Homo sapiens: one gene and its partner. The gene in region 1 interacts genetically with each later gene. Each region holds a gene or a part of one and is shown on either strand. Other genes may lie near its edges.

Region 1 (7,036 bases):
CACCATTTTCTAATTATACAAAAGTGCTGTGTGACAGCCCTCAAGGGTGACTTCCTCCTCTCAACCTCAGGGCAGGTCCAGATCTCACCCCAGCCACACCTCCCACACCCAGGTCTCACCGGTGTGGGACAAGCTGGGCAGTTTGAGACCCCGGGTCCCTATTGGCCGGAGTTGATGTAGCTGGTCCAGCCTGAGGTTCTCAAGGCGGCGAAGAGTGGACAGACCAGTGCCAGCAATGCAAGGTCCCTCGTCCAAGCTGGAGAGGTCTTCAGTGCTGCCCCCTGCATTGCCAGTCATTTCCACACCACTGTCTGTATTGGCTGCACTCCCTGCCGGGGAGTGGTCACTGCTGCAGGATGACTGGGCCCCAGGGCTTGGCTGTGGCTTCTGTGGAGAAGATGAGGTCTGAGGGCAACACCCTTCCCCACAGCTCCTTCAACTTGATGAGTGGCTGAAGCCTGTGTCCCAGTGACTGCTGGGGTTCCAAGGAAGCTTGTAAGTGTAGAAAGGGCTAAGCAGGTAAGAGATGGGGGAGCAAACTGAATGTGAGACGTTTGATGAGAAGAACCTAGGCTGGAGCACGGACTGGCTGGACTCAAATTCTTGCTCTTAGTTCTATGACCTTGGGCTATTTCTCTATGCCTGAGTTTCTTCAACTGAAAATGGGAACAGTGAGTCCCTTTATCATGAAGTTGCTGTGAGGAGTACATGAAATTATACATGTAAAAGGCTTGGAACATATACTAAGTGCTATTTAAGAAAGAGTTGCCGGGTGCAGTGGCTCACGCCTGTAATCCCAGCACTTTGGGAGGCCGAGGTGGGCAGATCACGAGGTCAGGAGATCAAGACCACCCTGGTTAACACAGTGAAACCCCATGTCTACTAAAAATACAAAAAAATTAGCCCGGCGTGGTGGCAGGCGCCTGTAGTCCCAGCTACTCAGGAGGCTGAGGCAGAATGGCGTGAACCTGGGAGGCGGAGGTTGCAGTGAGCCGAGATCATGCCACTGCACTCCAGCCTGGGCAACAGAGCGAGACTCCGTCTGAAAAAAAAAGAAAGAGTTTGGGTTGGATGCATTGGCTCATCCCAGCACTGTGGGAAGCTGAGGTGGGAGGATCGCTCAAGGCCAGGAGTTTGAGACCAGCCTGGTCAACATAGCAAGACTCGATCTCTAAAAAGAAGAAAAATTAGCCAGGCATGATGGGGTGTGCCTGTAGTGATCACTTGAGCCCAGAAGTTTGAGGCTGCAGTGAGCTATGATTATGCCACTACACTCCAGCCTGGGCGACAGAGCAAGACTCTGTCAGAAAGAAAGAGAGAAAGAGAGAGAGAGAGAAAGAAAGAAAGGAAGAAAGGAAAGAAGGAAAGAAGGAAGGAAGGAGAGAGAGAAAGAGAGTGAGAGAGTGAGACAGAAAGATTCTAAAACCTCTAGATTTGGGGAAGCCCAAAGAGCAACACTAAGACAAGAGACAGGCAGACTGGTCACAGAAGAGTGACTTCTATAGGAGGGAATGGATGGGTTGGGAAGTAACTAGAAAGATGTCCACAGGGTGGGCTGGGGTATGGAGGTGAGGGTTGCCTGGGCTCTCTCACCATGGCACCCTCTGGCACAGTCAGTCTGCTTTCCTCCCTGATGGGACCTCCTTCCCGCTCCCTCTTGGGCTCCACTGTAGAAATGGATGGTGCCCGAGGCAGGGGGCCATCCCCACGGTGCCGTTTGGTCACATGGGCGTCAGGACCATGCACTGTCTTGACATGTTTTCGCAGCGAGCTAGGATCTGTATAGCGTTTGGTGCAGCCAGGGAGCTTACATACATACGGCTTCTGTTGAGTGGAGAGTGGAGACAGAAGGCAAACGGATCAAAGCGGAAGAATGCAGAAGAAATGGGAAAAAGTGGTGACAACACAGGGGGCAGGGGAGGAGCACACAGCACCAAAGGAAGTAAGGAGGATGGAGGCCTCCGGTGGGAGTCAAAGATGCAGAGATTAAGTGGAGGGTTAGGAAAACTGACAGCCTGGGAAAGATGAGGGGGTGAACCCAGGGCTGTGAGGTCCCATAAATCCAGGGGTTGGAGGGATCAGGGGTCTCCTCTAGATGGAATCTTTTAGGTTAGCCTTTTGGCTGGTTAGAGGTTAGAGGTAGGAGGAGGAGTGGTTAAGTGGAAATTCTGGGTTTCAGAAAAGCCTTTTCTGGGCGAATTATGTGGGGAGGGGGACTCACCTCTGTGGAGTGGGTGCTGGGCTAAGGGATTTCTTATGGGGGAATCTCCCTGGTAGGTGGCTTCTCAAGAGGGGAGGGTCGCTTAGTTAGGGCATTCACCTCATTGGAATGGGTCCGATTCTGGTGCTTGGCTCGGTCACTGGCATTGCTGAAGGCTTTACTGCAGCCCTCGTGCTCACACATGTATGGCTTCTCACCCGTGTGTGACCGCAGGTGCGTCTTCAGGTTTTCGAGGCGTGAGTATGACTTCCGGCACCCTTCAAACTGGGGGACATGCAGGGGTCAAAGGATAGTTCTCAGACAGAGGACATGGAGATGGAAGGAACCCTCAATCTCCAACAGGACACACATCAGAGAATATAACTCAAGATGAAAGGCACTGGGGCTTCGAGAGAATTCCCAAAACTAGGGGACAAGGGCAGGCAAGAACTTGGAGAAGGGAAGCAGTTGGAGGCACTCTCCCTTTGGGAATATAAAGATGCTAGAGCATCTTCTGACCAAGCCAGGGCAGATTTCTCTGCATGGGGATCTTAGGCTGTCCCAAGATGGGGTCATCTTGGGGGAACGGGCTGTTGTCCTTGATGCAGGGTTTATCCATTAGGCAGAGTAGTAGGCACAGTACTGAAGGCCAACAATACTTTAAGAGGCCCACGAACATGTTTTAATGTCTTTTTTAAAAAAAATTTTTTTTTTGAGGCGGAGTTTTGCTCTGTCGCCCAGGCTGGAGTGCAGTGGCGCCATCTCAGCTCACTGCAACCTCCACCTCCTTGGTTCAAGTGATTCTTCTGCCTCATCCTCCCAAGTAGCAGGGACTACAGGCGCCCATCACCACGCCCAGCTAATTTTTATATTTTTTAGTAGAGACAGGGTTTCACCAATATTGGCCAAGCTGGTCTCGAACTCCTGACCTTGTGATCTGCCTGGCTCAGCCTCCCAAAGTGCTGGGATTACAGGTGTGAGCCACCGTGCCTGGCCTGTTTTAATGTCTTTTAAAATCAAGGGGAAAAAAATGAGCTTTTAGGTCCAAGAGTGTTTTAATATATATCATCATATTCATCTTTATGCCAACACAGTCACACAAACATTATTTTTAATATTTGTTTATGGAAGAAAGGACTTATAAAAGCAAAAGTCTGCCTTGGGCCCTACCTTGAAGGAGAGCCCTGATTTAGGAAGAGACCCTGGACTTGGGACACTGGTGCCTCACCGTGCACTTGTGTGGCTTCTCGCCAGTGTGTCTGCGCATGTGAACCACCAGCATGTACTGGGCTTTGAAGGGCCTCAGCTCCCTGGAGCAGCCCCCCCAGTGGCACACGAACTCCTTCCGCTCCCCGTGGATGTGCTCGCTGTTGATGTGCTGAGGGAGAAGATACAAAGGCTCTCCAAGGCTCTCCCATGACCCTGAGGTCCAGAACAGACCTTCCCTCCACCCCCTGTTCCTCTTCCACGACTCCACCTCAAGGAGGAAGAGGCAGGAGCAATATCATATCTCACATCTCAGGTCTTCCAGCTCCCTAAGGCAAAGCTACAACTTCTGAGCTTCTGCCTACCCAACTGAGCATTCAACCTCAGTCTCCTCTGACCTCCTGCCCTCAGCCGGATTCCACCATGTCCCACTCAGAATCTCCTAAAGGTTCTGGCTAGCCATTCCTGTTACCCCCTGGGGCTCACGTGCACCAGCTGCTCTTGGGAGTCAAATTCCTGGCTGCAGCCATCCCAACGGCAGTCAGTTTCATACACAGATTCAGGCTCACGCTTCTCCTCTCTCTCGAGGTCCTCCCGCCCATCCAGCATCCCCAACAGGGGATCCTAGGGCAAGAGAGGCAATCTCAGGGTCACTTGGGTGACAGCTTTAGTTTTGCTCAGGTCCCAGAGGTAAAGCTCCTGCCCATCCCCTTACCTGTATGCCTGTGGAGTTGGGGCTGGACATATCACCTTCCAAGGGTTCCTCCCGGCACTTGCCAACCAGCATGTCCAGCTCAGACTTCAGCTTCCCCAGGGGAAGAGGTGACGGTGATGAGGGTGGAAGTAAGCAGAAGGAAGAGGAAACCAAGCCAGGTCTTCCTGCCCTAAGTGCCCCCACCCAAGCAGCTGGAACCTCCTGGGTTTGGAAGGGACTTCCTCCTCAGACTACACTGGTGAATGGGATGGGCAAAAGGTGGGATCCCATTTGGAAGCGTCTGACTCAACTGCAAGGAGTGAACCCCAGCACCCACACCTCTTTACTTTTCTAGTACTGAAAACTTATATCCCTTGTCCTTCCTTCACCTTTCCCCTACAAAATCCACCACCCACCCACCCTGAGCTGAGGGAAATCAGGTAGCAATATGGGGACTCTCACCTGGCAAGTTGGGAAGGGTCCCCGGGACTGAGGATGTGGGATCATCCCACCCCGGGCAGAGTCATGGGGACCACAAGGCTGGACCCCAAAGGAAGGCGAGGGCCCTTTTTGGTGATTCATCTGGGCTGGGAATCCCAGAGATGGGCTGAGGAGGAGAGGAGGCAGTTACTTAAGACAATTAGGAAGTCTCAGGAAGGATTGGGCTATTTGGAGGATTTCTGGAAGACTTGGGATTTGTAGTGGTTGAGGCAGTCCCAGGGAAGTACTGAGGAGAGTTGTCTTTGAAATGACAAGGATTCAAATAGGGTTAGGTAGTTTGAGGGCTTGAGACTTTTAATGGACTTGGGTAGGGGCTTTAGGGGCCTCTTGGCCCGGGGCTGACTGCACCTCATGGTGCCAATGGAGAGATGACCGTAGGAGCCTCCTGGAGATGTGCATCGCGAGTTGATGAAAGCTACGAGGGAGCTGGGTGAGGTGCGGATAACCGTCTGCAGGTCCAGGCTGGCATCCGACAGAGGTGAGATGGACAGTGCCCGCTTCTTGGTCAACTTGACTGCACTCCGGGGAGAAGAAAAGAGTGGGCCTGGGGCAGGAGACAGCGGAGACGGATATGGTAAAGGGGCATGTCTCTCCATGCACCTAACCTATGGGTCCTGACTTGGCAAAACCAATGATACTTGATTCTGCTTTGCCCTATTGATGCTATCTGTGACTTTTTTTTTTTTTTTTTGAGAGACACAGAGTCATGCTCTGTAACCCAGGCTGGAGTGCGTGGCACCATCTTGCCTCACTGCAACCTCTGCGTTCCCAGGTTCAAGTGATTCTCCTGCCTCAGCCTCCCCTGTAATCGGCACTACAGGTGCAAGCCACCACGCCCGGCTAATTTTTGTATTGTTAGTAGAGACAGGGTTTCACCATGTTGGCCTGGCTGGTCTTGAATTCCCGACCTCAAGCGATCTTCCTGCCACGGCTTCCCCACAAAGTGCTGGGATTACAGGCGTGAGCCACCGCGCCCGGCCCCATCTGTGACTTCTTGATGGTGCTCTGACGCCTCACATCTCCAAGCATCTCCTCCTCCAAGTGAGATCCCCTGCCCTCCCACTTTCTCTTTCAGAACAAGTCAGAGAGGGGCAGAAAGGGAAGAGGTGTTGCCTGAGCCCTCACCCTCGGTGCAGCTGTTGGTCTCTCTGGCTGGCCCATAACTGTGGGGGCCGGACATGAGGTTAGCTTGGTGGCAGAAGGGCGGGCCAGACAGTCCTAGAAAAAAGAGACAGCTGGAATGGGAATGGAGGATACATAAACCTCACCTTAAAACCCCAGACATGACCTGATCCCAGATTCCAGGTCCATATGACATGGGGCCTCAAATCCTCCTGTAGATAGGAAACTGGCATGGGGTGGGGGTGGGCCCAAGTGGGAGATCTGCCAAATCCTCAAGGCCCAGGGATTGGTATATACACTGACCTTCTGTCCCCACACTGGGGGCCCCCTGACTGGGGAGGGGCCGGAGACAGCAGGGCTCGCCATAGCTACTGATTGGTGGTGGGGTCATCGAGTTGAACATGGCGTCTCAGAGGAGGGTGTGGGGACACTGCAGAAAGGGAAGGTAGGTATAAAGGTGGAGGAAATAGAGACTGTCAGACAGCAGTCTCAGGCACAGAATCCTGGGCAGAACATCCCTGGTATCCCCCACCCCTCTAAGACATCTGCCACGGAATTCGAGTTGAAAAGAGCATCACTGAGCCGGGCACAGTGGCTCACGCCTGTAATTCCAACGCTTTGAGAGGCTGAGGCGGGAGGATCACCTGAGGTCAGTTGAAGACCAGCCTGGCCAACATGGTGAAACCCCCGTCTCTACAAAAAAACAAAAATTAGCCAGTCATGATGGCGGGTGCCTGTAATCCCAGCTACTCGGAAGGCTGAGGCAGAAGAATCGCTTGAACCTGGGAGGCGGAGGTTTCAGTGAGCCGAGATGGTGCCACTGCACTCCAGCCTGGGTGACAGAGCTAGACTCCGTCTCAAAACAAAAAAAGCATCACTCGCTGAGTGAGGGGAGGGGTAAGGGGAAATGATGTCCCAGAGAGGCAGAGGCAGTCTTGTAGTCTGTGTACTCTGGGGATCTTCTTGGGAACTGGGTGGGAGCTTTGCCTGGGTGGGAGCTTTGCCTGTGTGGTCTGTGTGTAGAAGGCATGTTTTGGACTAATTGTGCCTATATTAACTTCAAGTGATTTTAGTAACATGGACCCTCTAATTCTTCTTGCTGTAACCCTGGGCCGGCTTTGAGGGTGGGATGGGAGAACTCGTGTGATGGATCTGACTTCAAGCACTGGGCGGCTCTGCTAGAGCCCGTTCCCCCTTCCTTCTCGTGCCCCTCCCCAGGGACAGCCCGTGTACAATCTCTGCAGTGTCCAGCAGAGGGAGCCCTAGCCACAGTCCCGACACAGAGCCAGGTGGGGCCAGGAGGGAGCACAAGC
Region 2 (6,515 bases), on another chromosome or scaffold:
AGTTGGCAGCTGGTTTATTGGGATGTAGCCCCATAATAAGCTGAGGACCGTAGTGAATGGCTTATCGCTTATGCGCCACTGCAAAGCTGAAAAATCTAAAGTTGAACTATCATAACTTGGGAACCATCTGTGTTTGGCACAAGTAAACACTTAAATCATAGTTACAAACTTGATTTAGAGTGTTGCCTTCTATTTCACAAAAACAAGTCTGAAATGTGTTTAATTGAACAAGAAAGAGGTGCATCAAGTTCAGCTCCTTATTATGTTCAACTTTAGAGAATTTTAAACCTAGCCTAATAATGTTTCTTTCTACATTCACACCTGCCCCTCACATGCATACAACCGATACCTAAAACATTACCTGAGTCAATGATCAGCTGGGCATAACCGTCCCAGTTTTTGTACACCGTGAAAAACTAAAAAGACATTATAGGCAATATCATGTACTGTAACACATATTCCAAAGGGAAAACGTCAATTCCAAAATACCTAGGAGCAAATGAGGCAACCAGGGCAGACACTAAAGCACTGAGCAAGATGCTGTCATGATGACTACTTATTTATTTCTATTTTATATGCGGGGAAACAGCTCAGTTATTACTCAAAGCCACACTTACCAAAGCCAGAGGTAAACTAGTACAAGTCTTTTGATTCTTAGCATTATATTCAATAAATTCACTAGGTATTCTCTAACTGTACTTTTGATGGGATATTGAAATCTTTAAAGGAGAAATTCCATGTTGGAACCAAGCAAAGGGTGGAATTTGACAAAGCAGCCCAACCACTTTGGCTTACAAAGTCCTTTATTTAGTTCCTACCCTCTTCATCTGCATAGTAAATCATAGGGTTCCCCCCCACCCCCACCACGAATAGCAGTTAATCATGGCTATTCTCCAAAAAGCTAGGTGCAAATTAACTTTATGGCTCCAGTCTATCTAATCTGAATGAATAAACAACCTAAAGGTTTGGGGTAAACCACAGCACAGAAGAAGCACCAGATCTAGGCTCCAGGCTGGTCTCTGCCATTGCTAACAGGGACACCAATTCCACAGAATCATCAGATTTTAAATGGCTGTTTTTGTATGTACCAGATAAAACTAGTGCAATTTTATTGCTGCTGGTACTTTTTTTTTTAAATTTTGGGATATACATTTTCAATTGGCTACTGTAACAAACTAAAGGGAATTTACAATACACTGTCGTACTGTTCATAAACTTCAAAATGAGAGTAGTGCCATGGAAGAAAAGAGATCCAGTTTTAATACCACTTTATGGCCAATAATCAGTATTTATTGTTTCTCATTTGTCAGGCACCATTCTAAGCTCTTTTAAAATATTCAGTCTTAACAATCCTATAGGCCGTTATCTCCGTTTTACAAAATAAAGATTGAAATAATTTATCCAAGGTTGCAGAGTCACTGCTGCAATCAGGACTTCAATGTTCTGCTGCACTGTCTTCATCACTGCTTTACTGCCTCTCAGATCAGATGCACGCCACTACCTAGCACACAAGAGGATGTGTGAACACCTCCTACTCATTCAACCTGACCTTGTCCTTGGCTCTTCTCCCTCGGTCTTAAGATTCCTCCTTCACCCCTCCCTCCATTTGCAGATCTCCAGGGTTAATTAAACCTTTCTACCTCTACCCAAACCCTTGTTTCCTCTGAACTGGTTCCAGCCTTTAAAATGCCCTATTCCCCACATGTTAAAAACTTAAGTGCTCATTGTGTTGCCTGTTCTTTAACCTTTTATGTCATGGTACCCTGATCAAGGCGGGGCAATCTCGTCCAACACAGCTTCTTCAACTTGCCGCAGCTTATTCCAAACTGCCTCTGCTGCCACTTGAGCTCACTCTCACGTGTCCTTTCCAACTGCATACAGCAGTCTACACCACAAACTCATGTTTGATTTCATACAATCCCGTGGCTTTCTTGTTCTGCCCCTTTGGGCTTAACCATACGCTCCTCCACTACTTAGTATAAACCCTGTTCCCAGGCCTCCATTAACTTTCACACTCAGGCTGATTACACACATATATTTAACAGTACAGTTTTACACAGAATGCTAAGAGCACTTTTCTTCATATTTTACAGAAGGGCTTGAAACATACAGACTATTCGTAATCATACAATAGCACATCCAAATCTAACTCCTAAATAGATGATGCATTATAATTTGTTTAGAATTTAAAGGCTTAATGGCAATAATCAGGGGAGGAAGAAGAGTATGTTTATTTTACATAACTGACGGAAAAATAAATTCAACAAATAGTAAATAGAATTTAATATGGTCTCATGCGCCCTGAAGGAGGTGGTGCCCGATTTGGAGGGGTAATTGCTATGTCCAAGTAATCTCCTATCTGGAACTTCTGCGACTGCAGGGTCATGGAATCATCAGTCCCCTTTCTGCCAGACATGGTGCTGCCAATCTCCTTAACTCTGTAAGAAAGAAAATCAACTGTTAATGGATCCAAATCAATGAAACCCAGTATGTACTACAAAGTGAATATGGCACTGGATTTTCTCCATCATTTTATAACACACTTCCAAAATTTAACTACTTTATTAAGCCAAACCACGTATTAATATAAACCCATATTCTCCCACTAACAAGATTCATTGAAGGAGTTATCTGTATCAGTTAAAACATACTAAAAACAAAGAGATTACAGGACTTAAAAATGAGAAGTTACCTACCGATAGCCAGGTCTTTTAACATCTGTAAAAACGATTGCAAAATTGAAGTGAGTGCCCTTCTTTCTAGCTTCTGGGTAGACTTCTTTTACTAAGCTTGTCAGTTCTTTCAAGGTTGCATCCATCCTGGATTTTTTTTAAAAAAGACATTTACATTTGCTTATTAATCAGCAATAATATTAAAAGGGATACTAACAATGAGTTAATTACATATATCTGAGTTGTGATTTACATTAGAAACTGCCAGGGTCTTATACTAGAGATTAATTTTAAAGCAGCTAAAAATACTATTTGCCTCCAAAAACTCCATGTACCAGCCTTACTGCTGGAAATTTCAATTAATTAGACTCTTAGTGCTAAAAGGGACTTCAGAGATTCTATATGCTATCTTCTGTTGCTACACAACACCTTATGGCCTAGTGATTTACCTAAGGGTAACTAGTCCAAATAAATCCAAATATGCAAAATAGATGTATCCCATTAGTTCTAAGACATGTACCCTTCCACATTTTAGCATCTCTGAAATTGGAATGTATCTTAGAATCAATGTACTAGGAAAGCATTTTCATACTGACGTTTTGTTTTTGAGAGAGTCTCGCTCTGTCGCCCAGGCTAGAGTGCAGTGGCGTGACCTCAGCTCACTGCAACCTCCGCCTCCCAGGTTCAAGCAATTCTCCTGCCTCAGCCTCCTGAGTAGCTGGGATTACAGACGCCCACCACCACGCCCAGGTAATTTTTCTATTTTTAGTAGAGACAGGGTTTCACCATGTTGGCCATGCTGGTCTCGAACTCCTGACTTCAAGTGATCCACCTATCTTGGCCTCCCAAAGTGCTGGGATTGATTACAAGCGTGAGCCACTGCGCCCAGCCAGATGTGTTTCTTCTTTCTTAGATAGAATTGTAAGTTTTACAACAGATAAGAGTACTAGAGCCAATGAAATATACAAAAGTTTCTTACAATGAAGCACAGGCTCTTGTCACAATAGTTTCTTACCCTGCAAATATTGACTTGAATCCAACTTTCATATAGTCCCCTGAGCTAATAAGAGAACAATCTGAAAAAAATATTTTAACATATAAGCATCTTAGAAATAACCTAGTATACATTTTTTTGCCAGGTGCGGAGGCTCATGCCTGTAATCCCAGCACTTTGGGAGGCCAAGGCGGGTGGATCACCTGAGGCCAGGAGCTCAAGTTCGAGAGCAGCCTGGCCAACATGGTGAAACCCCGTTTCTACTAAAAATCCAAAAATTAGCCAGGCGTTGTGGCACACATCTGTAGCCTATAATCCCAGCTACTCGAGAGGCTGAGACAAGAGAATCGCTTGACCTGGGAGGCGGAGGCTGCAGTGAGCCAAGACTGTGCCACTGTGCTCCAGCCTGGGTGACAGACTGAGACTCTGTCTCAAAAACAAAAAAACCTGAGGTCACATTGGTTTATCTGTCTCAGAGGTGACCTTTTTTCAACCTGATATTTTGATGTTAACTATTCTGTATCAATTATAGGTTCAGTATCCCTTACCCAAAATACATGGGACTAGAAGCGTTTTAGGTTTTTTCAAATTTTAGAATTTTTGCATATACGTAAGATATCTTGGGGTTGTGACCCAAGTTTAAATAAGAAACTCATTTATGTTTCAAACATACCTTATACACAGCTGGAATACAATTTTATACATCATTTTAAGTAATTGTGTGCATGAAAGGAAGTTTGGTGCACGCCTGTAATCCCAGCTACTCAGGAGGCTGAGGCAGGAGAATCGCTTATACCTGGGAGGCAGAGGTTGCAGTGAGCCGAGATCGCGCCACTGCACTCCAGCCTGGATGACAGAGCAAGACTCTGTCTCAAAAAAAAAAAAAAAAAAAGAGGTCAAGAACTTATGTGTGCAATTTTCCACCGGTGTCACGTCAGCTCTCAAAAGTTTCAGATTTTGTGGCATTTCAGATTTTGGACTTGCGATGCTCAGTCTATATTCTGATACACAGTACATACTTATGATGATATATACCAGAAAGAATTTTTTCCTTTCTAAAAATATTTTCAATATTGTCTTGCTCTTAATTAATTTGGGGGATTTATATCACACCTTTTATCAGTTCTGACAGTGTGAAACCTACACAAGCTTCCCACCTTCTAAGGACTGTCTTTCCAGACCAACAATTGGAGTGCCAAGTGTTGCTTTTTCATCACTAGTCAGAAGCTTGAGGACAGGGTGGGGTTCAGTACTTGTGTCAGCTTGACGAAGCTACAGTCCCCAGATATTCAACCAAACACTAACCTAGGTATTGCTGTGAGATATTTTATAGATGTGACTAAAGTCAACAACCAATTGACCTTAAATTCAGAGGTCTATCCTATATAATCTGGGGAGGCCTGATTCTATTAGTTGAAAGGCCCTAAGAGCAGCCTTTCCTTCCTGAGAACCTGCCCTACAGATTTGACAATTAAGGGCCTAGACAGCCCCCACAATCACGTAAACCAAATTCTTTGCAATAAAGCTTTTTTTTTTTTTTTTTTTTTTTTTTGAGATGGAGTCCCGCTCTGTCGCCCGGGCTGGAGTGCAGTGGCGCTGATCTCGGCTCACTGCAACCTCTGCCACCTGGGTTCAAGCAATTCTCCTGCCTCAGCCTCCCAAGTAGTTGGGATTACAGGCACCCGCCACCATGCCTGGCTAATTTTTGTATTTTTAGCAGAGACGGGGTTTCACCATGTTGGCCAGGCTGGTCTCCAACTCCTGACCTCATGACCCGCCCACCTCGGCCTCCCAAAGTGCTGGGATTACAGGCGTGAGCCACCACGCCCAGCAGAAATAAATCTCTTAACACATCTCTCCCAATTCTGTTTTTCTGGCTGAGCCCTGATTGACTTTGGTGAACACAGCCTGCCTCTACTGGGCTCCTCTGGACTTCCACTCCTGTTTCCATAACTTCTCTTGGGACTGCCTATTTAACCCCACAGTCTACTTCTCCAAATTGAGAATTTCCAGTATATGTTAACTAATTTTCCCTCATTACTATTTCTGGGAATGAGGGCAGGCCTTTGTGTTACCCCCATACCAATCATCCAGTCTTTCAGAATCTTTTCTTTGGCCACCATTTTGAGATGTAACTTAAAGTTGTTCCTTCTTTGTTTGGTTGCAATTTATGGACGGTATAGTTTAGGACAGGATTTTTTTGGTAATTTTTTTTCTTGATTCAGAGTGGAAGGTCTGTGGAACAACCTCACCCTGCCATTTTAACCCTAAAAATCACTCTATTCATCCGCTTTCCCTGATAAAAGGACTTACTACAGGGAGGAGCAGTACCGTCTTGACTTTATACCCTCAGGATCTAAGCACACACAGCACCTGGCAAATAGGAACTCTTGTTGGAAGAAACATACACTTTAATTTCTGAAGAGATTTTCATCAAGCCATTATTCAACAGTTCTTCCATATAAGCTAAATCAACCTTCCTAGAACACTTACCCTTGAGTGATGCTTAAGTACAGGTATCATACTACTACATAAATTTAACAAGCACCTCCAAATAAGACAAGTAAGGTCCCAATCTTCAAGGGATTAGCTCTAGTGTACAGGGCTTAAATAGTTTAAAATTATACATCTTTTGGGGAATATAAAATAGTGCAGCTGCTGTGAAAAAGTTTGGTGGTTCCTCAAAAATTAAACAAAGTTAACATATGACCCAGTAATCCCCTCCTAGGTACATACCCAAAAGAACTGAAAGCAGCGACACAAACACATTTGTATGCCAATGTTCACAGCAGCATTATTCACAATGGCAAAAAAGGTGAAACAACCCAAGTGTCCATCAATAGATGAGT

The links. A genetic interaction does not mean that the proteins touch.
Region 2: of GLI1 (region 1) and SAP18, changing one suppresses a phenotype caused by changing the other (phenotypic suppression), as found in Homo sapiens cells (one study listed by BioGRID).

What each region holds. Positions count from the first base shown.
Region 1 is NC_000012.12:57,462,782-57,469,817, reverse strand, and holds part of GLI1 (zinc finger protein GLI1), read right to left. Parts: exon of another isoform or gene 6,846-7,036; intron 6,154-6,845; 5' UTR 6,127-6,153; coding exon 6,027-6,126; intron 5,820-6,026; coding exon 5,727-5,819; intron 5,146-5,726; coding exon 4,950-5,145; intron 4,708-4,949; coding exon 4,563-4,707; intron 4,212-4,562; coding exon 4,122-4,211; intron 4,031-4,121; coding exon 3,893-4,030; intron 3,579-3,892; coding exon 3,429-3,578; intron 2,486-3,428; coding exon 2,321-2,485; intron 1,825-2,320; coding exon 1,594-1,824; intron 388-1,593; coding exon 120-387; intron 1-119. UniProt on the Homo sapiens protein: Acts as a transcriptional activator. Binds to the DNA consensus sequence 5'-GACCACCCA-3'. Regulates the transcription of specific genes during normal development.
Region 2 is NC_000013.11:21,143,109-21,149,623, reverse strand, and holds the end of SAP18 (histone deacetylase complex subunit SAP18), read right to left. Parts: intron 4,533-6,515; coding exon of another isoform or gene 4,340-4,532; intron 2,820-4,339; coding exon 2,697-2,819; intron 2,439-2,696; coding exon 2,282-2,438; 3' UTR 527-2,281; downstream 1-526. UniProt on the Homo sapiens protein: Component of the SIN3-repressing complex. Enhances the ability of SIN3-HDAC1-mediated transcriptional repression. When tethered to the promoter, it can direct the formation of a repressive complex to core histone proteins.